6 separate regions of the Homo sapiens genome follow, and regions 1, 2, 3, 4 and 6 are each reported to be linked to region 5. Evidence: microRNA targets listed by miRTarBase, many of them from high-throughput screens and not tested one by one. Region 5 holds a microRNA gene; each other region holds the end of a gene's coding sequence.
Evidence for each region. Region 5 holds the annotated microRNA hsa-miR-2276-5p (GCCCUCUGUCACCUUGCAGACG, at 2,492-2,513, shown strand). A microRNA usually pairs through its seed, bases 2 to 8, with sites in the 3' UTR of a target mRNA and lowers its output. Matches are read on the target gene's strand: a 7mer-m8 pairs with bases 2 to 8, a 7mer-A1 pairs with bases 2 to 7 and ends in A, and an 8mer does both.

Region 1: the mRNA of ENDOD1 is a reported target of hsa-miR-2276-5p. Seed matches in the 3' UTR shown: 7mer-A1 at 2,370-2,376, 8mer at 1,826-1,833 and 7mer-m8 at 665-671.
Region 2: the mRNA of SLC30A3 is a reported target of hsa-miR-2276-5p. Seed matches in the 3' UTR shown: 7mer-A1 at 2,871-2,877.
Region 3: miRTarBase lists COL5A3 as a target of hsa-miR-2276-5p. Seed matches in the 3' UTR shown: 8mer at 1,257-1,264 and 7mer-A1 at 1,265-1,271.
Region 4: miRTarBase lists FOXL1 as a target of hsa-miR-2276-5p. Seed matches in the 3' UTR shown: 7mer-A1 at 1,648-1,654 and 7mer-m8 at 2,163-2,169.
Region 6: miRTarBase lists NUP42 as a target of hsa-miR-2276-5p. The part of its 3' UTR that is shown has no 7-base or 8-base seed match.

Annotation. Positions count from the first base shown.
Region 1 is chr11:95,129,139-95,133,226 of GRCh38, reverse strand. It overlaps ENDOD1 (endonuclease domain containing 1), which reads right to left. Exons shown (of 2, transcript NM_015036.3): 2 at 582-4,088. The coding sequence ends at 3,648. Among named protein-coding and RNA genes, the nearest start is that of LNCRNA-IUR, 19 kb to the left of the region's middle.
Region 2 is chr2:27,251,745-27,255,832 of GRCh38, forward strand. SLC30A3 (solute carrier family 30 member 3) reads right to left here. Exons shown (of 8, transcript NM_003459.5): 8 at 1,940-3,716. The coding sequence ends at 3,568. Among named protein-coding and RNA genes, the nearest start is that of SLC30A3, 9.3 kb to the right of the region's middle.
Region 3 is chr19:9,957,077-9,961,164 of GRCh38, reverse strand. COL5A3 (collagen type V alpha 3 chain) reads left to right here. Exons shown (of 67, transcript NM_015719.4): 66 at 275-514; 67 at 608-1,604. The coding sequence ends at 754. Among named protein-coding and RNA genes, the nearest start is that of OLFM2, 23 kb to the right of the region's middle.
Region 4 is chr16:86,579,207-86,583,293 of GRCh38, forward strand. It overlaps FOXL1 (forkhead box L1), which reads left to right. Exons shown (of 1, transcript NM_005250.3): 1 at 1-4,087. The coding sequence ends at 555. Among named protein-coding and RNA genes, the nearest start is that of FOXL1, 2.7 kb to the left of the region's middle. RefSeq lists an enhancer at 203-824.
Region 5 is chr13:24,159,940-24,164,027 of GRCh38, forward strand. MIR2276 (microRNA 2276) reads left to right here and starts at 2,477; the gene lies at 2,477-2,565. It overlaps SPATA13 (spermatogenesis associated 13), which reads left to right and starts at 781. Exons shown (of 13, transcript NM_001166271.3): 1 at 781-993. RefSeq lists a silencer at 672-731.
Region 6 is chr7:23,200,424-23,204,511 of GRCh38, forward strand. NUP42 (nucleoporin 42) reads left to right here. Exons shown (of 7, transcript NM_007342.3): 7 at 1-583. The coding sequence ends at 322. Among named protein-coding and RNA genes, the nearest start is that of NUP42, 20 kb to the left of the region's middle.

The sequences.
Region 1 (4,088 bases), not on the chromosome of region 5:
AGAACCCATTAATGAAAAGCAAGCAGTCCACACTATATGGCTTGTAGTGTAACATTTGGACAAACACGTATTCTGTGGTGAGCTTAGGCAAGATGCTGCCCACACTGGGAAGGCAGCCAAGAATTACTGCCACCTCCACCCAAGAGGATCACCCTACTAAAGGCCACAGAGAGGACCAGCCCCCGTCAGAGACTGCTTGTAATTTCTCTCACTGTGGGAGCTTCCTAATGAATAAACAAACTAATAAAAGTATTTCTATAATTTTCTATGTGATTCAGATTCAGTGAAGCAGTAAGTCTTTGGTGCTTAATTATGCAAGATATCAAAAACACTTATTGTCCCAAATACTTTGCAGAGCAATAACATTAAAAAATAGTTCTAAGTCCTGTTTCACTGATCCAGACCTCTCTGTTTTTTCATGTATGATGCAAACTTTTAAAGAAATGAACAAAAGCCAGTCACTGGAAGCTGCTTGAATTAATGCGGATCAAGAAGAAAATGGCAACAATTCACAGTCCCCAAGCCTCATTTCAACTATTAGGATTCTCCCCTTTTAGATATTTTACAGAACTGCTAACGAGTTGTCAGTAATTACTTTATTGAGCATCTGCAAGGTGCACATCATTGTACATAGCTTGAAAATGTCAAATTGAGTTTTGTCACACCCTCTGTAAAGGCTTCCCTAATTTCCATGGTTTCGTGGTTTTTCTTCCTCTGTTCCAAGGAACATGTTATTAGTACCTTTACTGCAGCACTTACTTGTCCTTCATGTGTTACGATTGTACCATGTGTTCTCTCCACTAGGTTTTGAACTCCTCAAAGATGAAATCCATGCATTGTTCATCTCTGCAACCTTGATGTCCAAATACGTGTTTGACAGATGAACGAATGACTGAATAAATGAAGGATGGTTCACTTTGGTTCCTCCTCCCAACTACCTAGTCTGCATTTAGATCGAAGTGCTGATGCTGAGTGAGAAGACAACATTCAAAAGGCACAATGGAAAAGAGAAGTGTCCAAAGGCATAGCTGATCCACAGACTAGAAAATCAGCTCCATAATGAGGAAGAGGCTAATCCCAAGGCCTCAGAACATAACAGAGCCACAGCAAGATCTTTAAGCCAGAGTTGGGGTTCATAAACCCCAACCTCTACCTCAAAGCCCAGCGTAGCTCATTAGGAACAGGCCAGCAGTCCAGCCACCTGCTGTGGCTTCACGTCCAATGCAGATGGTTCTAGAGACCCACAGGCACAGCCACACTAGTAGCTCAGGGCAGTGGGTCTCAGCCACCTATCCTTACTGATACTTTTTGCTTTATTGTCCCTTTTTAGGTTTCAAAACTGGCCACCCAAGAATAAATAGACACTAAACAATTGGATGTGAAAAAGAAAGACATTCCCCAATGGTTCTCAAGAAGCCGTTTGGATGCTGTGCTCCTTACATGGTGCTAAGGGGCTCAAGCTGCCGTGGATGCCCTTTTCGGACCTTTCAGTATGCAAATATGTGCTAGGAGGGAATTAAGTTTCCATGGGATGCAGTAAGCATAATGTTGTACATGGATGGCTAATTGTTTTCATCACACATGCCAAATCCAACTGCTTTGTCAGGGCCTGGAGTCTGTTTGATGAATGAGGAAATCTTGCCATGGTCCAGAGAGGCAACTGAATAATAGCACGAACTTCCCATGTCTGACATCTCAGGTGTGATGGGACATGTGCAAACAACGTTGGCTCCTAATCTGCTCTCAGCTAGCCATGAAACTAAGGGCTAGCCTGTTGCCTCCCAGGGCCTTGGGTTCCTTATCAAATAATAGTTTGGCTGGACTGTCCCTCTGGTCACTTCTAAAATTCCTTTTCTTTATCCAGCAGGATTCTTGACCAATCAGTACCAAGTCAAACCCTCACCCTTCCATTTACCTTCACACTGCTGAAATAAAGGGACATCCAAACTTTATGCTCCCTAAGACAAGAGTTGGTAAAATACTGCTTTAAGTTTCTTAGCTAAGCCTGGTGCACATCTCCCTAGCATGGACCCATGCGGTGCTCATACTCCCTAACCTTGCATCACAAATTGATCAGGATGGCAGCTTGCTGGCTGCTGTTCTACTCTGGGTGTGCCTCCGCTATTTTTCTGCAAAATGTAACTCTTGCTACGCTCATGTTTCTCATCCATCGACCCCATGCAAATGGTTGACATATTGTTCTCTCCTTGTTGGGACCCCGAATTTTTGCATATAACTTTCTGATTGATCCTGGGCGGTAGCCCCAAGATCAGTATTTCATACTTGGCTGTTTCTACCTCTCAGCAATTCTTTAAAACATTCAGAAAAATCCAGGTGATTCCATCCCAATTGTGGGAAGCAAAGTTTGGTCCCTCTTGTTACCATTTTTTAGTGCAAGATTTAAAATGACAAGTGCTTGATCAAAAAAATTTTGAGAATGAGCTCTCACATTTAATTTGTATTAATGGGGGAGTTATGTTTGTAGCCTCAAACACACTGTAAAAATAATTTCCTAAGATATAATTATTCTTAAATATTTTATATATTTTTTTCAGAGATGGCCACAATAACTTTTATCTTTATTTTGTGGCTCTTTTCTATATAGTTGTATCAAAACAACCATTTAGGGACATAAGTCAGAGTATTTTTACTGTGCTGGGTACTTATTTCATGCATTAGAAAAATCTACTATGTTGCAGAATATGAATTTTCATGTTAGCTTAACATATAGATCTTTCAGTTCAACCTTGTCAGGCAGGGATACACGTCAAGTTAATCCAAGCTGGACAAAAGATGTCCTTGGATCTGCAGCACCTACTAAGAGCAGGGCTGTCCACCTTCTCTTCTCTTCTTTCCACCGGAGAGGACTGTATTATACCATTCAAGGGGCCCAAAAAAAAAAGAAAAGAAAACTTTGCCCTTCAATTCAAACTCTGTTATGCCACATTTGGCATAAAATGCTTACCATTACCTAAAAATGATTTTTTAAAAAATGCTTATCATTACCTAAAAGAAAAATGTAGCAAAATTCAACTTTGGAGGAAAATGAAAACTGTACATATCCTTGAGAACCACGGAAAGCTAAGAGATATAGAAAATTGTACATTCCCACAAAGTTATTTCAACAAAGAGGCATTATCTGCATTCCACCAAGGTCAGTCGAGTTGAGGAGAAAGAGAAGCAAATGCCAAGAAATTGGCTGCAGATTTTTTTTTTAATCTGTTTTGCCTTAAATCACAAAGAGCAATGGGAAGAACAAGCTCCCTTTCTCCTTTTCTCAGACACCTTTGGTCTAAAGTTGTTCTTTTTCTAGTTCTTCCCTCCCCTGTAATTTTTAATTATCAGAAATAAATACCAGTGCATTTCAGGTGGTCGTCTGTGTTAGAGTGCATAACTGAAGTTATTAGTGGCTTGGGAGTTTGCACATATAACTGGAGGTAAACAGCAGATTACTACACCTAATCTCACCCTGAGCATTTCTCCTCTGTCAAGTCTAAATTCTGCCATCTTCTTTTGCAAAAACAAGCAGACATCCCCACCAAAGGCCAAAATATAATGATAACTGACAGTGAACAGAAACCCATTGTAAAGACAAACTATTCCAGCTTTCAAATTCACTGTGACTGGATACTATTAGTTTTTTGAGTTTATAACTCCCCAGAATTGTCAAAAGTAACCTTGTAGCCAATCCGCTTGCAGACACTAAAAACCACCTGAAATAGGCCACCCAGGGTACCAAAAGCAGTGTCAAAGAGCAGTGAGACAGTGCCACCAAGGCCCAGTGCAATGTCCTTGCAAACAATTGGAATAGCGCCCATGGTGTACACAGGGAAAGTGGCCACATCCACAAGGACACGGACAGGGATGCTCAGAACTCGGCAAATGGCCTTCAGCAGACAACAAAGGATCCGGAGGAGAGCCCTGATGACTTTGGCCACGACCTTGAGCACCTTCCAGGGAATGCTCACCAACTCTTCCCCAATGGCCATGAAGTATGAGATGGTGGCTGAGCCCAGGCGGTAAAGGCAACTTTCTATGCCATTAATCACCTGCTTGGTAACACACCACAGGAAATAGACAATGTTCTT
Region 2 (4,088 bases), not on the chromosome of region 5:
GGCATTCACCTGCCCTGAGCATTCCCCTGCAAAGGGACCCAGCATCGCACAGATAGGACAGGCTGTGGCTTAAAGCATTTCATAGGGTGAAAATCGAGTCCTCCTGTTCCCCACCCTCCTTCCCTCTCCTCGATTTCCTCACTCTTCCCCACCCCCATCCTGTCACCTGGGGCCTATAATCAATGAGACGTAAAATGAGAAAGTATCAGGAACCAGCAAAGCATGGCGAGCAGCTGGGGCGGCCTTGCCGCCGGGCGTGATGGACTGCCAGCCCTTCGCTTCGCCAGCCTCCCACACCCTGACGTGGGCAGTGGCGTCTCACCCAGCCTGGGCTAAGGCTCCCAGCTGGACATCAGGGAGGGGGCTACCTCTGATGAGTCCAAAAGCCTCACCTTTAAAAAGGAATGAAATCTATGGTCTTGACATGGAAAGATGAGTCTAGGCTGCATGGTTGAGTCATAAACACAGGTAACACGATCTCACCTATAAGATGACCCCATTTTTGTTATTATGTAGAAATACTGACCCCATACTAGGATTAGCAGTTTTCTCGGAAAGTAAGATTACAGGGGAAACATTCACTTTCTACTTTATATACTTTTCCTTTGTTGTACCCTTAAAACAAGTATATATTGCTTTTATAGTAAAAATAATCTGATAATAAAGATATTTCTATTATGAGGAAGGCTCACAGAAATATGCATGGGCTATTGAAAATGCTCAACGTCCTTGCTTTGGGCTGGGATTTTATCAACATGGTGGGAAGGCCTGAAGCACTAGATCTAAAATCAAAGCACAGAGTCTAATTTTTTTTTTTTTTTTTAAGACAGAGTCTCCCTCTGTCGCCCAGGCTGGAGTGCAGTGGCGCAATCTCAGCTCACTGCAACCTCTGCCTTCCGGGTTCAAGCGATTCTCCCTGCCTCAACCTCCCGAGTAGCCAGGATTACAGGTGCCCACCACCATGCCCAGCTAATTTTTTTTTTTTTGAGACAGAGTTTCACTCTTGTTGCCCAGGCTGGAGTGCACTGATGCAATCTCGGCTCACCGCAACCTCTGCCTCCTGGGTTCAAGCAATTCTTCCGCCTCAGCCTCCTGAGTAGCTGGGATTACAGGCATGCGCCACCACACTGGCTAATTCTTGTATTTTTAGTAGAGACGGGGTTTCTCCATGTTGGTCAGGCTGGTCTCGAACTCCTGACCTCAGGTGATCCACCCACCTCGGCCTCCTGAAGTGCTGGGATTACAGGCATGAACCACTGTGCCCGGCCAAATTTTTGTATTTTTTAGTAGAGACAGGGTTTGACCATGTTTGAGACACAGTCTCACTGTGTTGCCCAGACTGGAGTGCAGTGGCACAATCATGGCTCACTGCAGCCTCGACAACCTGGGCTCAAGTGATTCTCCCCACTTAGCCTCTCAAGTAACTGGGACTACAGGTACACACTACCATGCCCAGCTAATTTTTGTATTTCTTGTACAGACAGGGTTTCACCATGTTGCCCAGGCTGATCTTGAACTCCTGGGGTCAAGTGATCTGCCTGCCTCAGCCTCCCAAAGTGCTGGAATTACAGGCGTGAGCCATCTTGCCTAGCTGATTTTTCTTTTTTTTTCTTTTTTTTTTTTTTTGATGGAGTCTTGCTCTGTCGCTCAGGCTGGAGTGCAGTTGCATGATCATAGTTCATTGCAGCCTCAACCTCCTGGGCTCAAGTGATCCTCCCACCTCAGCCTCCTGAGTAGCTGGAACCACAGACATACACCACCACACGTAGCTAATTTATTTTTATTTTTAATTTTTTTTGTAGAGACAGGGTGTCACTATGTTGACCAGGCTGGTCTTGAACTCCTGGCCTCAAGCGATCCTCCTGCCTCAGCCTCTCAAAGTGCTGGGATGACAGACATGAGCCACCAAACCCAGTGAGTTTGATTTTTTTTTTTTTTTGAGACAAGGTCTTGCTCTGTTGCCCAGGCTGAAGTGCAGTGGCATGATCATGGCTGACTGCTGCCTTGACCTCCTGGGCTCAGGCAATCCTCCTGCCTCAGCCTCCTGAATAGCTGGGACTACAGGTATGCACCACCACACCCAGCTAATTTTTAAATTATTTGTAGAGACAGGGGTTTCCCTAGGTTGCCCAGGCTGGTCTTGAACTCCTGGGCTCAAACAATCCTCCTGCCTCAGCCTCCAAAGGGCTGAGATTACAGGCACAGGCCACTATGTCCAGCTTGAGTTTGATTTTTTTTAAAGAGAAAATCAACAATCCCTTAATGAGCCTGATTTTAAGACTTAATGTGTCAAAATATGCAGTTCTTAAGACAAAGGGGGAATAGGTGTAAAAGAGGTCCTTGGTGTTCACAGCCTAAACCTGGACTCAGGGTTGGCTGCTATCAGGGTTGAGGGGTCCCTACCGCTGGACACCTTAGATGGCCTGAGAACCAAGCCCACATCAGTGCTATGGTCTAGCCATTCTCCCTCAAAGGGACCCAGCCTCCCTCCAGCCAGCCTGAGGCCCACTGGCATGCAGGGACCTCTGAGAACGACTGACTCCCAGGGATTCCTTGGCTCCTTACCTTCCAGCATTCTCCTGCAACCAAGCCCAGGGCACATGGGACTGTCCCTGAGCCAAGGACCCAGGCATGCTGTGAGCCAGGGGAAGGGGAGTAAAGAGACTGGTGGCTTTTACCCTCCATCTGAGGGTGGAGGGGCTGGGAAGGGACAGGAGGTCTGTGGGAGGTCACTCCAGAGGCTGGGAAGGGACAGGAGGGATTCTGTTGTTCTCAAGTGACCTATTTGACTTCCCCCTCCTGAGGAGTCAGCACACAGGCTGAAAGATGCAGTGAGACACAAGTTTATTGGTGGAGCTGCAGCGGAGTCCTCCCTCTTTCAGGGATAGCCAAGGGCACAGCACCAACAGAGGGATGGAGAGATAGACCCCCAAACAGACACATGGATGGAGCAGACTCATAGAAACCATAGCACAGCCACATAGGCACAGAGACACACAGGCCACAGCACCAAGAACACACACACACACACACACACACACACACACACACACACAGACAAAACCACAGGGCTAAGACACACGGACAAAGTGCGGGCTTTGGGGCCCCTGCATAGACAGAGCGAGGGCCATGTGGGGAGGGGGCCCCTACTGACCTCCCCCAGGCATAGGCACACCAACAGCACATAGACAGGCAGATGCCCCCAGCCAGCCAGCCTGCCACACAGACAAATGGACTGCAGGGAAAGGATGTTCGTGGCTCCACATGAACCATGGGGAGATGGCACCACAGGCCTTCAACACACCCTGCCACACTGAGGCCTGGGAGTCCCCGCCCCTGAACTAGTCACATCTATTCCCCTGACTCCCACCCCACTCCCCGCCACACTTTGGTCTTGCCCACTGGGGCTGGGGCTGGGGCTGAGGCTGGGGAAACTGGCAGGTGGTAGGAGGGAGAGAGGAAGGGGTATGGACCTGGCTCGGTCCCGTCTCTGTGATCAGGGCAGCAGATGCTGAGAGTCTGGGGCTGAGCCTCGGCCTGGCAGTGGGGTGAGGGCAGGGCCATGGCTCAGGCTTGGGGGGGTTCCTGGCAGCGCAGGCACTGGGCCATCTCCGGCTGATACTGCTCGACCTGCAGGGTGCAGCTGGAGAATCCAAACCGGGAGTAGAGCCGGGATGAGGCTTCAGCCAGGACGGCTTCAGGGTCAGCGGTGGAGTCTGTGGGAGAGTGATAAGAGGCGGCATCCATCCCGGGGGAGAAAGAACAGGCAGGGACTGAGATAAGGACAGGGAAAGGGGCTGCACAGCATTAAAGCCAGGCGTGAATGGAAGCCTGCTTTTCTTTCTGTATTGTATGAACAGCATAAAAGTGTCAAATCAAATGTTGGAGAGACTCACCCCAATCAACCATGCTAACACACTAAACTCTTTCCAGTCTCCTATTCTCTCCTGTCATTAAGTGTCAACATACAGCTCAACATTTCAGCAGCCATACCACCCGATTTCCCAGGACAATCCAGTTGTTAAATATCTGTCTCATTGTCCCTCTAGAGTTTCCATCAAATATCCCACAAATTATAATATTTTTGG
Region 3 (4,088 bases), not on the chromosome of region 5:
TTAAAACCCTGGATTGGTGGATGAAGCAATCAGAATTTGGGAGGTCAGATGGAGTGGGCATGGAGGCCTACTGGATGGAGAGGTGGACAGAGTGGATGTTCAGGTGACTCTTGGGATTCTGCCAGGGATCTCTAGGTGGCTGGTGGGACCTCCTCAGAGATGGTGACATGGGGGGGGTGGCTTGTCTGCCAGTGGATGGAGATTCCAGGGGGTGGCTTCTGCAGAAAGAGGCTCATGGAGCCCCTCATCCTCTGCCTTGCCCTCCTCTCACCAGTTCTCCTACGTGGACGCCGACGGGTCCCCAGTGAATGTCGTGCAGCTGAACTTCCTGAAACTGCTGAGTGCCACAGCTCGCCAGAACTTCACCTACTCCTGCCAGAATGCAGCTGCCTGGCTGGACGAAGCCACGGGTGACTACAGCCACTCCGCCCGCTTCCTTGGCACCAATGGAGAGGAGCTGTCTTTCAACCAGACGACAGCAGCCACTGTCAGCGTCCCCCAGGATGGCTGCCGGGTAAGAGGGTGGGGCAGTGGCCAGCTAGAGAGGGGAGGCAAGATGTCGGCCACCTTCCCGGTAACTCACCGTCTCTGTCTTCTCTGGGGACAGCTCCGGAAAGGACAGACGAAGACCCTTTTCGAATTCAGCTCTTCTCGAGCGGGATTTCTGCCCCTGTGGGATGTGGCGGCCACTGACTTTGGCCAGACGAACCAAAAGTTTGGGTTTGAACTGGGCCCCGTCTGCTTCAGCAGCTGAGAGTGTCCGGGGTGGGAGGGACCATGAGGGAGCCCCAGAATGGGGTGCATTTGGTGCTGAGGCTTTGAAGCCACCGTATTTTTCGTTACCTGTGACTATGGAGCCAATGGGATGTGACTTCGCTCATCACGGACAGTCATTCCTTCTCCTTTCCAGGGTGCTGGGGGCTGGGGTTCCCTGGCCCAAGGGTCCAGCCTCCTCTCACCCCATTCCAGGTGGCATACTGCAGTCTGGCTCTTTCTCCCCTCCCTCCCCACCCAAGCCTCACCTCCCCACCCCTTGAACCCCCATGCAATGAGCTTCTAACTCAGAGCTGATGAACAAAAGCCCCCCCACCCCCAATGCCTGCCTCCTCACTCCTCCGTCGCTGCCCTTCACACCTTTTGGTGCTACCCCTCCCCAGAGTTAAGCACTGGATGTCTCCTGATCCCAGGCTGGGACCCCTACCCCCACCCCCTTTGATCCTTTCTACTTCCACGGTGAAAGGACTGAGGTCGGACTACAGAGGGAAGAGGGACTTCCCTTGACTGGGTTGTGTTTCTTTTCCTGCCTCAGCCCAGCTCTGCAAATCCCCTCCCCCTGCCCCCCACCTCCCCAGGCTCACCTTGCCATGCCAGGTGGTTTGGGGACCAAGATGTTGGGGGGGTGAATCAGGATCCTAATGGTGCTGCCCTATTTATACCTGGGTCTGTATTAAAAGGGAAAGTCCCCCCTGTTGTAGATTTCATCTGCTTCCTCCTTAGGGAAGGCTGGGATATGATGAGAGATTCCAGCCCAAGCCTGGCCCCCCACCGCCAGGCCATAGGGCATAATTTGCATCTCAAATCTGAGAATAAACTGATGAACTGTGTTTCTGTCTCTGTGTATTTCTTTTTTAAATTTTTTTGTTTGTTTGTTTGTTTTATTTATTTATCCTTGAGACGCAGTCTTGCTCTGTCGCCCAGGCTGGAGTGCAGTGGTGCAAGCTTGGCTCACTGCAACCTCCGCCTCCCGGGTTCAAACAATTCTCCTGCCTCAGCCTCCCTAGAAGCTGGGGTTGCAGATATGCACCACCACACCCGGCTAATTTTTATAATTTTAGTAGAGATGGGATTTCACCTTGTTGGCCAGGCTGGTCTTGAACTCCTGACTTCAGGTGATCCGCCCGCCTTGATCTCCCAAAGTGCTGGGATTACAGATGTGAGCCACCACGCTCAGCCCTTGTTTGCTCGTTTTTAGAGACTGGGTCTCACTCTGTCGCCCAGTCTGGAGTGCAAGGGCATGATCATGGCTCACTGCAGCCTCCAACTCTGGGACTCGAGTGATCCTCCTTCTTCAGCCTCCTGAGTACCTGGGACCACAGGCATGCACCATCACACCCAGCTGGGTTGTTTTGTGTGTGTGTGTGTGTGTGTGTGTTTGTGTACAGATGGTGTCTTTCTTTGTTGCCCAGGCTTGTCTCAAACTACTAGCCTCAAGCAATCCTCCCACCTCAGCCTCCTGAGCTGCTGAGATTACAGGTACGAGCCACCTCACCCAGCTCTTGATCTCTTTCATCTGATGTGGCCCATATCTGTCTTGGGATCTGGCTCTTGTCTCATCTGAGGTACCTGTCACCACCTGTATTAATTAGGTATGTCTTTTGGGAATGCAATTATAATGAGACTCACTGGAGATTATAGGCCTATTTATTCACCCAGGCTCCTAGAGGAAAAGTTGAAAATTGTCAGCTTGGGCTGGGAGGCCCAAGTCAGCTTAAACCAGAAGTTTGGCCTCTTTACAAAAAAATTTTTTTTAATTAGCTAGGCATGGAGGAGCATGCCTGTGGTTTCAGCTACTCAGGAGGCTGAGGTGGGAGAATGACTTGAGCCTGGGAGGCGGAGGTTGCAGTAAGCTGAGATTGCACCACTGTGCTCCAGCCTGGGTGACACCACAGCAAGAACTTGTCTCAAAAAAAAAAAAAAATTTGGTTTGGGATGATTTGAATTAGGAGTAAGATGTTGGTTTGAGGTATATTTTTAACTGATTTATTGAGATAGAATTCATTTACCCATTACCATATAATTCATTACCATTCATTACCATATAATTCACCCATTTAAGCTGTGTAATTAAAAGAAATCCTATACCCATTAGTGGTCACTCATGTCTTTCCAACCTCCCAGCTGTAGGCAACCACGAATCTGCTTTCTGTCTCTAAGGATTTGCCTATTCTGGACAGAAATATCCATTTCATATAAATGGAATCACGCTAGGTGAGGTGGCTCACTCCTGCAACCCCAGCATTTTGGGAGGCCAAGGCAGGAGGATCGCTTGAGGCCAGGAGTTCCAGACCAGCCTAGGCAACATAGCAAGACCCCATCTCTACAAAAATGAAAATAAAAACATTAGCCAGGTACAGTGGTGCATATCTGTAGTCCCAGCTACCCAAGAGGCTGAGGCGGGAGAATCACTGGAGGCCAGGAGTTGGAGGCTGCAGTGAGCTGTGATCTCACCACTGCACTCCAGCCTGGGAAACAGAGTGAGACCTTGTCTCTAAAAAAAAAAAAAAAAAAGGAATAAATACAAATAAATGATATAATGATATATGGCCCTTTGTATCTGGCATTTTCAGCAAAACGGTTTCCAGGAGTTTTTTGTTTTGTGGGCAGAGTCTCGCTCTGTCACCCAGGCTGGAGTGCAGTAGCACAATCTCGGCTCACTGCAACCTCCCCCTCCAGGGTTCAAGCAATTCTCCTTTCTCAGCCTCGCGAGTAGCTGGGACTACAGGCACGCACCACCATCCCTGGCTAATTTTTGTATTTTTAGTAGAAACGGAGTTTCACCATGTCGGCCAGGCTGGTCTCGAACCCCTGGCCTCAAGTGATTCACCCACCTCGATCTCCCAAAGTGCTGAGATTACAGACATTAACCACAGTGCCTGGCTGGTTTCCAGGTTTATTTGCAGCATGCATCAGTACTTCATTCCTTTTTATTGCCAAGTAATATTCAGTCATCTCCCACCTTCAGCTAATTCATTCATCGTTGATGGGCACTGTTGGATTGAGTTTAGTTAGGAGTGATGGAGAAATGGTGTGAGTTGAGTTGGGTCAGATGGGATTGGGTGGGTAGAAACTTCAGGTTGGGGTGAGTTTTCTCCCTCAAACCCAAGGCTCTCACCCTACTACTCCTGCCACCAGCCCCTTAAGGCCACCTGAATACTTGTCCTCATTCATTGAATCAACGTTGCTAAGAGTCCTGACTCCATGAAGACTGTTGGTGCCCAGAGGTTGATGATTCGTTCATTCATGTTTTTTTAGAAGCATTTTTTTTTCTTGCTGTTGCCCAGGCTGGAGTGCAGTGGTGCAATCATAGC
Region 4 (4,087 bases), not on the chromosome of region 5:
CACCAGCGCAGCGCGGAGGCGCAGCCGGAGGCGGGGAGCGGGGCAGGGGGCTCGGGCCCCGCAATCTCCCGCCTGCAGGCAGCGCCCGCGGGCCCCTCGCCCCTCCTGGACGGCCCCTCTCCGCCGGCGCCCCTCCACTGGCCGGGGACCGCGTCCCCGAACGAGGACGCTGGTGACGCTGCCCAGGGCGCAGCGGCCGTGGCGGTCGGCCAGGCAGCGCGCACAGGGGACGGCCCGGGGTCCCCTCTGCGCCCCGCCTCCCGCAGCTCTCCGAAGAGCTCCGACAAGTCCAAGAGCTTCAGCATAGACAGCATCCTGGCGGGAAAGCAGGGCCAGAAGCCGCCTTCAGGGGACGAACTCCTAGGGGGTGCCAAGCCTGGGCCCGGCGGCCGTCTGGGTGCCTCGCTCCTGGCCGCCTCCTCCAGCCTCCGTCCGCCTTTCAACGCTTCCCTGATGCTCGACCCGCATGTCCAGGGCGGCTTTTACCAGCTCGGGATCCCCTTCCTCTCTTATTTCCCCCTGCAGGTTCCCGACACGGTACTCCACTTCCAGTAAAGCAAACAATGGCACGGTTCTTCTCCCGGCCCAGCCTGAGCCTCCGCTGAGCGAAAGGCCACAGCTCCCACCGGCGGAGGATTTTAAAATGATCTTTGCCTGGGTCGGCCTGTGGGTTCAGGGAAGTGTTACCAACCATTGCGCGCAGGTGGGCGCGCTCGCCTGCCTTCTCCGAAGCAAACTTTTCCCAGCAACTGGGAGCAGCTACGGAGACTTAAAAGATCCCCGCGGGGTCGTGGGCACCGCACGTGGGCCCTGCAGGGACCTCCACCGCGGGAGATTCCTTGACGTTTGACCTGTCTAATGGAGTGTGGTCTTCAGCCGCCCACCGCAGGTCCTGCGAGTCCCGGGCATGCAAGGGCCCGCAGACCACCCAAGGCAGGCCTTACAGGTGCAGTTGAGGTCCTTTCGACCGGGGACCCCCGTATGACCGTCGCCTGCTTCGCTGTTGCCGTGTGGCTCAGGCCTTGGTTTTGAGCCCATCTGGGTGGTGGGTGGTCACAGCTGGGTTTGTTCCTGACTTGAAGTTGTGGAGGTGCCGGGGGTGACCCCGGGTTTTCAGGTTTTCTGAGAGATGTAGGGCCCGATGAGGATTTATGACCAATGTTCAGCTATAGAAGCTGATAACCACCCAGAGCAATAACACTTTTATTTTAAACAGAGACTTTTTCTCTTAATTTCTTTCTGGGTAGTAAAAAGAACATGTTTCATTCTTTGCATAAATACTTGACTCTAAGCATTGACCTTTGAAAACGCTTGTATTAACAATTTTTATTAAGAAAGTGCACTCTATATAACATCTTCTTGCATTACGATAGCTCATTAGCCAATACACATGCAGCTATGTAAGCCACAACAGCAGACGTCCTATCCTTTTGCTTTTGTTTTTAAGGGATCAAAATATTTCAAGGGATACCATGAGGAAGGGTGTGAGGGGAAGGGGATATGCCTTGGACAATGTCAGAGTTTTGATTTCCATGTTTTTTCAAGATCCAGGCTTGGTGGTCGCTATATTTTTCAGAAACAGATAATGAAAGACTACATTTAATTTAAAAAGTTGGGTGAAACAACCAAAAGCAGATGCAGAGAGAGAGAGGGATGAATGCGGGGGAAGAATAAGGGGACGTGCTGGTGTCCGCTGGAAGGGGCCTCTCTGGGCCCCAGAGGACCTGAGGTTTGATGGCAGGAATCTCCCAGACACTCCTGGCCCCCGCACCCCCTGCAGCCGCCCGCTCTTCCCTCCCAGCCCTGCCAGGCAGGCCTGGAGGCTGATACTAAATCAAAACCTTAAAGAGGTGACTGGCAGTCTGGGGAGGGGAGAAGAGGTCTGCAACGAAAATCTAATTAAGAACATTGAGATGTTCACAACCAAGTTCAGCTTGCAGCTTCCGGGGAAATGCAACCGACCTCTATGCCATCTCTAGCTGGGTAATCTTCGAGGCCCTGAAATGCAATTTTCTGAACCTCTAAGTCACTTTTATTTTATGTCATGTGATAAAGACACAAGTAGTCACGCACTATTGGAAATAGGTTGGGAGGGAGGTCTTTAAGATCGCTTTTAAAATAGTTTCCAGGACTTGTCTAAAAATGATGACAAACTTTGAATCCAGAGGGCCTGTTGGTCAATGTGTTGGAAAGGACATTTCAGGCCGGCAGAGTAATTGGATAATTCACAGGCATAGAGGTGACTTTTGGAAAATTCATTCTCCTATCCATGCTGAACCAGGCTTCCACGACTGGGTTCTACCCAGGCCAGTGGGAAGACTCTGGGAAACTTCAGGCCAGCCTTGATTGGAAGAACTTCCAGGAGGAGCCATTGCTGAGATCCAGGCTCACTGTGATTCACTGAAAATGTAGCGAAAGGGCTGTCACTGGATATTTTGCTATCCCAAACTCTCAGCCTCTGTGAATAAAGTTGTTTTTTCATTAACCTCTCAGTGACTGGTTCAGTGGATTACTGGAGGGAAATAAACAAACAGTGTAATAAGAAAGAGGAGACTGGGATTATATCTGGGAGTCGTGTTAGCATCTCAGGAGGCTCTGGCTTCTGAGGGGTAAACACACAGATGGAGGGGAAGGAGTGGAGAGGATGCCGGGCCCAGGAAGCTGCCTCCATATCAGAAAGCACGATGAGTTAATTCTGCCGTATTGAATCGGTTTTTAATCTTTCCTTTTTCTTTTTTGTGTTTGTATGTTATCTTGGGAGGTTTTGTTAATTTGTGATGGCTATGTTTTGAAGAAGCAAATAATTTGATACTGCAGTTTTAAAAGGGTCGTATTTTAAAGTTACTATTCCAAAAAGTATTGTACGAATGTTACTTTTATGACACAGAAAAAATGCAGATGTATCCACTTTGTGTGTTTATACATGCATAAAGAGAAATTCTATTTAATCCCAACTTTTGTCTGGTTTAGAAAAGCTAAGACAAGTGGATACTGAGGTCGTTTTTATGTAATCTATATAATTGCATGTGTATTCCTTCCTCCTGAACCAAAAAGAGGAGGTTTGGGTCTTACCAATCCGAATAGCTGTTCTATTGATCCATATTTAATCGTTGGCTCAAAATTATGGCTCAATAAGGTCAATAGTTTCTGCTCTTAATTAAAACAAAATCTCAGCTATAATTAGGGTGAGCCAGAAGCAAGCTTATCATTGTACTCTTAGGCAATCTGAAGGAATACCTCTCTGCTCTCATCTAAACAAAGGGAACAGATCTGTCTTCTGTAAATGATCTTTGGTTCAAGCCCTGATTACACACACACACAAACAAATACCCACACACATATGAGTGCACTGATCATAATGAGGATATGGCAGGCACATGTTTGATAACAAAGTGTGTATACATATGTACACGTTTATATATATGTATATACATATATATACATGAATGTGTAGGGGTGTGTGTGTGTATTTGTTCTGTGTACATGAATGCTCATAAATGTATCTTTTTTGAATATACCTGAGACTCAGATCAAGTACTGAGTCCTTTCACTTTAACCCAAGTATTGATACTATTTGAAAGATTTTGTTTTTCTATATAGTTTTTAAAAATAGATAATAATTTCTATATAGCTTTAATAGTTTTGTTTCTCTATGTAGTATGAACCAGGGATAACTTTATTGTTCTGTGTTAGTATAGTGAAACTGACAGATTTTATTTAAACATCGCGGAAGACACCCGCTTTGAGAACTTTTCCCTCCGTTCACAAGGACAGAGAACTTTACAAAGGACTCTTGCTCTGCCTGGCCTCATCTAGTTGCTGGCTTTTCTAGAAACAAACGGCCTCCTGGGCCTCCAGTGAACCATAAGAGTTTTGAGAACCTGAATAGGACCTTCTTAGCCATTTTCAGATTTAATTGTGCCCGTTTGAATGGTGGTCTTCACCATTTCACTCAAAGTGGTGAGTGTATGCCCGTGTGTATGTTAAAGAATTAGCCACATATAATTATTGTTACAGCTGAAAGCCAGAGCCAGCCTGCCCAGACCCTGGCAGGTTAATGTTAACATCACAAAGGTAGGTGACGTTT
Region 5 (4,088 bases):
CACAGATCCCAGCACAGAAGGGTTTGCTTCTCTTCTGTGGTTTTCATGTCAATTAATGATTAGGCCTTGAGCCTCACAAGAAAGGTGATAGGCCTTTGAGTCGGTTTACTGCAACAGTCTACTCAAGACTTGCCCCAGGCCCTGGGAAACATGTAGGTTTAAAAATCCCTACCCTGCGTTTTCCTTTCACAGGGAGTGAACTTCTGGCCCAGGCAGTGGGCAGTGGGGCACGGTTGCCCCGGAGATGAGACTCCTCTTCCCGCCCTGGGGGGTGGGGGCTGGCTGGTGGCTGAGGGAACTATTTTTGTTTGTTTCTTTTTTTAAAAAACGGAGTCTGGCTGTGTCCTCCAGGTTGGAGTGCAGTGGCGCGATCTCGGCACACTGCAACCTCCGCCTCTCGGGTTCAAGTGATTCTCCTGCCTTAGCCTCCTGAGTAGCTGGGATCACAGGCGCCTGTCACCACGCCCGGTTAATTTTTATTTTTATTAGAGACGGGGTTTCACCATGTTGGCCAAGCTGCTCTCAAATTCCTGACCTCAGGTGATCCGCCCACCTCGGCCTCCAAAAGTGCTAGGATTACAGGCAAGAGCCACTGCGCCTGGCCGGGGAACTGTTTTTGATGGGTGGGGTCCCCGGCTGTGGTTGGTAGTGTGGGGGCGTGGCCGAGGGTGTGGCCTGAGGGAGTGAGCTAACCGGGGGCGTGGCCTGATATGGGGCGGGGGGAAGAGCCGGGCTGGGGGCGTGGCCTGGTGGGGAGCGGGGCTGGGGCGTGGCTTGGCTGAGTGTGCTGCCGCGGCGCGGGAGGAGAGTGTGCGTTGCGCTTTCTCCCGCGATCGCCCTGCCGGTCGCTAGCTCCGAGGGCGCGCACTGGATCCCAGGCTCCTCCGAGAGTGCGGCGACCTCGGGGCTCCGCCGGCACCGGAGGTGGCTCTGAGGGCAGGGACGTGTTGGACACGCTGACTTTGTAGGCTCCGCCAAGAGGCGCCGCAGGAGGTAAGACGGCTTCGGGCGCGCGGCTCTGCCGGGCGGGCGCGGGCATGGGCTGTTAGGTAGAATATCGGGAGGATTTGAGTCCCAGTGGACTGCCTCGGGGCTTCGGGATGTCCAGCTCCCAGCTGCTTGGCCTCTGCTTCCCCCGCCGGTGGAGGCTACCGGGTGCTCACCTGTTAGGTCCGTGCGCCCGCTCCCTGCCCGGCGGTGGCTCTGCGCCCTCTGGGCCACCCGGCACCATCGCTTTTGGGAGGACATGCACGTGGTGTTCTCGCAAAAGGCCGTTTCCAGCCGGAAGCCTGCAGGGAGGTCGCCTTGTAACTTCACCCGCGCTCCCAGCTCGCGGGGCCTGGCCTACAGGGGCGGCCGTGGGGGTGGCAGAGTCTGGGGAGCCTGGCGCGGCGGAGCCCTGTAACGCTCTGCTCCATCGGGTGGCGTGGCTGGTGCCTCCGGGGACCCGGAGCGATGCGGTTGGAGAGCTTAGTTTAGAAAGCAAGTTTCTCTTGGTACCAGCGGAGTCTCGTCCCAGGGGAAAGATTTTGGGACCCGGTGCCCATCGTCTGTGGACTGCAGGGAATGCATTGGCGGAGTTGGTTTGGTCCCATTCTGTGCAGGAGGTGGGGGAATTGGTACTCCAGCCCCAGGCAGGTAGAAGCCCGCGCTGCTGCCAGCGTCAGGGGGAGCTCGGGTGACTTGGGCTGGGCCACCCATCTGACTGCAAGGTTACAGAGCTTGAGCAAATTTCCCCTCCCTCCAAGTGCAGGAAAACCAAACCAAAGCAAGCAAACAAAACCCTGTGGGTCATTTGCTTCCCAGCATTGCATAGGGATGTGGATAAATAGAATAATACTGTGAATTTATTCAGCTCTTGTTCCCATGGCTTCCCATAGCCTTATATTATGCACCTCCCCCTGCCAGCATTTTCTCTGTCCCCACCTTCGGTTTTTGCTGCCTCGTGTTTTCTTCTCTGTGAACCTTTCCTGGTCACCCAGCGATTTGCTCTCCTTTATTCCCCTTGCTAACAGGCGGAGAAATCTCACTCCTTTTCTTTTTCCACCTTTCCCAACAAATTCTCCTTTTTTCCTAATGTCCCCCTCCCCCGTCTTGCAAACTTCCTCACTGCATTATTCTCGGGGTGCCTGTCATGCACCCTCCCTGTTCTCTGCCCTCCTCCCGCACTTTAGAGTTTCATGTGGCTTTGTCTTATTATCCCATATCCTAATTCTCATCTACCTCCCTTGGCCCCCACGTTTGCCATCTGCCTCCACCCAGTTCTCCCATCTCCTTCCTTATTTGTGCTCCCGTGCATATGCAGGTTTCTTCCTTGTTTCCCCATGTTTCTCCCACAGGTGCTTTCTTCCCTTTGCCCTACTTCTCCCTGGCAGGCGCTCTGCCCAGCCACAGCCTGCCCCGCCTGGAGGGCACACCTTGCCTCAGTGCCTTCTGCTGCGGTTTTCCATGCTCCATCAGCATCCCTGGGTTCCTTGTGTTCTTCCAGTCCGCCCTCTGTCACCTTGCAGACGGCTTTCTCTCCGAATGTCTGCAAGTGTCAGAGGCGAGGAGTGGCAGCTGCATCTCTGCAGGAGGACTCTGGATTTCAGGACCCTCCCTTCTGCCACTGCTTCTGACTGATTGTTTTCTTATTGAAGTCGTATCCTCTACATAGTTCTAGAATTAATGTCAATATTGATGTTAGGTAGCATCTACCAAACTCTGGGTGTGTGCCAAGCACTGTTCTGAGGGCTTAACGTGCATCAGTACTCATTTAAAATCCTCCACACATCCCTATAATGTAGGATCTACTACTGTCCCCATTTGACAGATGAGAAAAGGAAGGCTCAGAGGAGGTAACCGGCATGGCTTCTTGCCACTGCCTAGCAGTGGAGGCCCTCTTCTCACCAGACAGTGGAGCTTCCCTGCTGGGTGACCTCTTGAACTCAGGCATGCCTGGAGTTTAGCTTTGGAAAGGAGGTTGTTATATGACATGTTTTATTTAGTCTGCAATGTACACCAGTGGAGGACATGAATTCTATACCTGTAGGACAGTGCATGGAGAAAAACCTAATGCCGGCTGTCCCTCAGAAAGCCTGGGGCCAGTGCCTGGGCTGTCACCTCATCCATGCTATCAGTCTACTTTCCCTCTTAGCCACAGGAAGCCCTGAAGAAAGTGGCATAAAAATGACCTGGCTGGGCACAGTGGCTCATGCCTGTAATCCCAGCACTTTGGGAGGCCGAGGTAGGAGGATTGCTTGAGCCCAGGAGTTCAAGACCAGCTTAGGCAGCATAGCAAGACCCCATCTCTAAAAAATAAAAATAAGAAATCAGCTGGTTGTGATGGCGCACTCACCTGTAGTCCAAGGTGCTCAGGAGGCTGAGGTGAGAGGATCTCTTGAGCCTGGGAGGTTGAGACTGCAGTGAGCTATGATTTTGCCACTACACTGCAGCCTGGGTGACAGAACGAGAGACTCTGTCTCTAAAAAAATTAAGTTAAATTAAAAAAGAAGACTACTGCCAGCTGTCTCCTCCCGTGCATTGAGAGTTCCGTTTCACTTTAGCTGGACAGATCTTTATGGTCTCTGTTAGCTGTGTGACTGTATGAGTCTTATTTATATCCATTTCATTATGTAATCTTAAAGCCTTGTCCAAACATTTCTTTTTTAGTCTTTATCTTCCTAAGAGTTGGAGGCAAGTAGTATTTCTACTTTACAGATACTGAAGCAGAGCATGCACCTTGATAGCTGAAAGGGACTTTATATTCTACAGATGAGGAAACCGTGGTCCAGGGAAATAAAATGGCATATTCAAGGGAAAGCAGCAGGACAAAGTTGGCTCTAAGGCTTCTCTGGTTCAGGGCTCAATGCCTGGCCCTATAGCTTGGTAGGTTGACCTCTCTGTTTGCTGCTGGAAGCAACAAAGTTTCTTTCCCCTTCCTTTCCCTTGAGCTAAGAGGCATTGGAAGGTTTCACTTAGAAGGGGAACTCATCAGTGCTTTCCTTTCTTTTTTGTCTGAAAACTAAACATTTAAGAAATGTTTGCCTATGAGACATGTAATAGCATAAATGGGATCATAACATCACAGTGGTATAAATTCAAATGTT
Region 6 (4,088 bases), not on the chromosome of region 5:
AGGACTTCCAGCTTCCTTGGCAACAGGTCCTGTCAGAGCTCCAGTGGCCCCAGCCTTTGGAGGTGGCAGTTCTGTGGCTGGTTTTGGTAGTCCGGGCTCACATTCTCACACTGCTTTTTCTAAGCCATCCAGTGACACTTTTGGAAATAGCAGCATATCCACTTCTCTGTCAGCCTCAAGCAGCATCATTGCAACAGATAATGTGTTATTCACACCCAGAGATAAACTAACAGTAGAAGAACTGGAACAATTTCAATCCAAGAAATTTACTCTGGGAAAAATTCCATTAAAGCCTCCACCTCTGGAACTTCTAAATGTTTAAAAGGGCAATTTTAAATACAAAAAAGAATGATGTTTAAAATTGCTTTGAGTGATTCATACAGAGATGTATATATGCATACATGTATATATTCATAAGGAATATAAGCTTCCATCAATAGTGATTTTAAATTTGATTTTTTTCTTAACTCTAAATATTTAAGTAAAAAGTAACAAAAACTCTGCAAGCAAGGGAATTTTTTTGTACTGTAATTTTGAATGGAACTGAAAAATTATGCACGAATAAAGTACTTTTCTCATGCCATACCACTTTACTGTCTCACAATTTAAAGTTTTAAACTTTTTTTTTTAGGAAGGAGATAATTTCTGTAATTATTAGGGGGAACATGCTCAAATATTTAACCTACTTTTAGAGTAAACATTAGTAGCATGACTTCATGTTCAGGATTCTCTCAAAGAGATAAATCAGTTTGTAAAGAGTGACAAGCTTTTAGTTTTAGAACCATAGGGGCATTTCCCCCCCGATAAGTTTGGTTCCCTCTCAACTTTGGCGGTCTCGTGGACCACCATTTGAGTTTTCTTCAACAATCTTAGGCTGCTTTTTATTTTGGCCTCACTTTTATAGAATTCTATTTATTCATCACATTAGTCTGTCAAATGGATGAGTTGTAAGAGAAACAAATTGTGATCTCATGTGAATAAATAATGTGTGTAGTGGGGTCAGGATTCACCAGTTTCTGTTTCTAGATCTTCTCAGGCATGGCCAGGTACAGTAGCTCACACCTGTAATCCCAGCACTTTGGGAGGCTGAAGCGGGCAGATCACTTGAGGTCAGGAGAGTTCGAGACCAGCCTGGCCAACATGGTGAAACCCTATCTCTACTAAAAATACAAAAAATAAGCTGGGTGTGGTGGCGGGCACCTGTAATCCCAGCTACTCAGGTGGCTGAGGCAGGAGAATCACTTGAACCCGGGAGGCAGAGGTTGCAGTGAGCTGAGATCACACCACTGCCCTCCAGCCTGGGTGACAGAGCGATACTCCATCCCCTTTCCTGCCCTCCCCCAACAAAAAAAGAATTATTGTGCATGTTTGGATCTCCCTGTGTCCTCAGATTGAGGGAGTAAGATTTATATTTTACATATGGATGATCCAAGAAACTAAATGCCTGTCACGAGTTGAAGCAGGTATATCAGACTTCTGCGCTTTCTCAGTCCTCAAAAATTGCATAGCTAGCACTGCCAGAGCAGTTACTAACACGGTTCTGGCATTCAGCTGATTTTTCTAAGTGAATATAAAACCTTACATAATAAAAGATATGCCCTCCAAATGATTTTAACGTATGCAAAGGATTCAGTCCTCAAAAGACCTGCATTCTCCATTACACTTTTGTTGTTGTTCTTGTTGTTGTTGTTGTTATTGTTGTTGAGACGGAGTCTCACTCTGTCGCCCAGGCTGGAGTGCAGTGGCGCGATCTCGGCTCACTGCAAGCTCCGCCTCCTGGGTTCACGCCATTCTCCTGCCTCAGCCTCCTGAGTAGCTGGGACCACAGGCGCCCACCACCACGCCCGGCTAATTTTTTTGTATTTTTAGTAGAGACGGGGTTTCACCATGTTAGCCAGGATGGTCTTGATCTCCTGACCTCATGATCCGCTTGCCTCAGCCTCCCAGATTTCTGGGATTACAGGCATGAGCCACCATGCCTGGCTCCATTACACTTTTTGAGGAGCTGCATGACTCATCTGACAGTTCTGGAACCCCAGTGTTTGGTACAGAATCTATACTATAACCAGGGGATATATATTTGAAACCATGCTGGTGTAGAGATGGTAAATAGAGCATAAGTTCCTTTAGAAGGAGCAAGATTAAAACAAAAAGAGCATAAATTCCTTCTTTGGTCTCAAGCTCTACAGACTTTCCAGTATTCGAACTAATACTTGAATCCTAGAATTTTCCTGCCCCGCCCCCCCCCCCCCCGGGATGACCCCTACACTACCTCTAAATTGCATACAAGCTCCCTGAGGTCTCAGTTGAACTTCCCAGTGTCCTGGAAGATCTCAGAAAATCCTAGTTAAAAGCCCATTGTTTCCAACTGTGCCTGATTATAGGAATCACCTGGGGTGTTAAATAATATATCCAGATAACATATCCAAATTACAGGAGCTGCCCATTGGGATGGGCTTGGGAATATGTCAACAGGTATTCCTTGTGGTCCTTCAGGCAAGTTTGGGAAACAGGACTATCCAGCTGGATTTAGGCTACTTAGTAATACCTGATTTGGGAGTTTTAATTGTTGAAGTCTGTTTTCTGTGCTCCCATATAGACAAAAATGTGGGAATTTAACAGGATCCGAAGTTTTTTAAAAAGCACAAATAAGTGCTACAGGCTACTAAAAAATTTTGAGAAACTAAAGCAGAGAGGCCCACAAAGTAGAAACTAGCACCATGCATACATACTGGTGTCAGAAGTCAAGAAAACTGGTAACTCCCAGACCTAGGCTAAGGGGCATCGCGGCTTCAGAAAATCAGAAACAGGTAACAATGAGGTGGCAGCAGCTGGGTATAAAGGTAGGTTGAGTGTTCAGACCCCAAGAGGGAGGTAGTAGAAGGGAAAAGGCACCCACAACAAAAGGATGTGCCAGCATCTTCTGGATGGTATCTCCTAATCTCATATCCAGTGAGACTAGCAGAGCTGGACTAACTAAGAGGCATACCCTAAAATAGGCAAAAATAGCCTGCCTTCACAGCTGCTGTAATAGCTGTCCTTTTCACCTAAGGTCTAGAGCAAGTGACAGAATTGTAGATAAGGTATAGCAAATAAACTGATTTAACTCGATTGATTATCTGATCACAGATTAGAAGGGGAGAATGGTAACAGCTGAGAGCTGATTAAAAGGGGAGAGAAAGTGAGCTGATATTAAAACTAAAAGGTATAAAATGATTTAGCTATGCAGTATTATTCATGAGTAAAATAATTCAACTTGAAGCATCAAACAATGATTTAATTGTGGTAGATACATACATTGGAATACTAAACAGCCTTTCTAAATGACTTAATAGAGAATAACTTGGAAATGTTTTCATTCTGCAATCAGTGGACGAGAGTTTGCTATAAAAAGAGCATGTACAGTGTGATCCAATTTGGAGAGAAAGAATATATTAATGGGGGGGAGGCTAAAACTTAACAATAATAGCTCAAATTTTAGTGAGTTTTTGCTATGTGCCAGACAATGTCCTAAGCATTCTGTATCTAGTATATTAGCAAATTGCCTCATCACAACCATATAACCTAGGTGCTATTATAACAATTCTCATTTTCAAAATGAGAAGAGCAAGATTTGGAGACATTAAATGACCTATCCAAAGTCACTCAACTTCCAAGTAGTTGAGTTGTAATTCAAACACTGAATTTAAAGGGGCCATGCTTTAAACCACTCTGCTATACCACATACTAGATTATGAGGACACTTTGTCTTTTTTTTTTGTATTTTCTACAATAGCATTACCTTTATATGTTTCCCCCATTTTTCCTCATATGAGTACAATTTGCAGTCCCACCCCAAACTTACTGAATCAGTCTGTATTTTAACAAGACCCACCAAATGATTTGTATGCACATGAACATGTCAGAAACTATTTCATGTGTAAAGGAGATGTACAAAAATGTACACAGTATTGTTTATATAGCAAAACAGAAAGCACCAGAAGTCCATCCACGGGATAATGGATAAACTTTGGCATAATGGAATATAACTGTATAATGACTCAAGTTACTTGTATAAACAACCACCAAAAAGGGGGAAGGTACAGAAT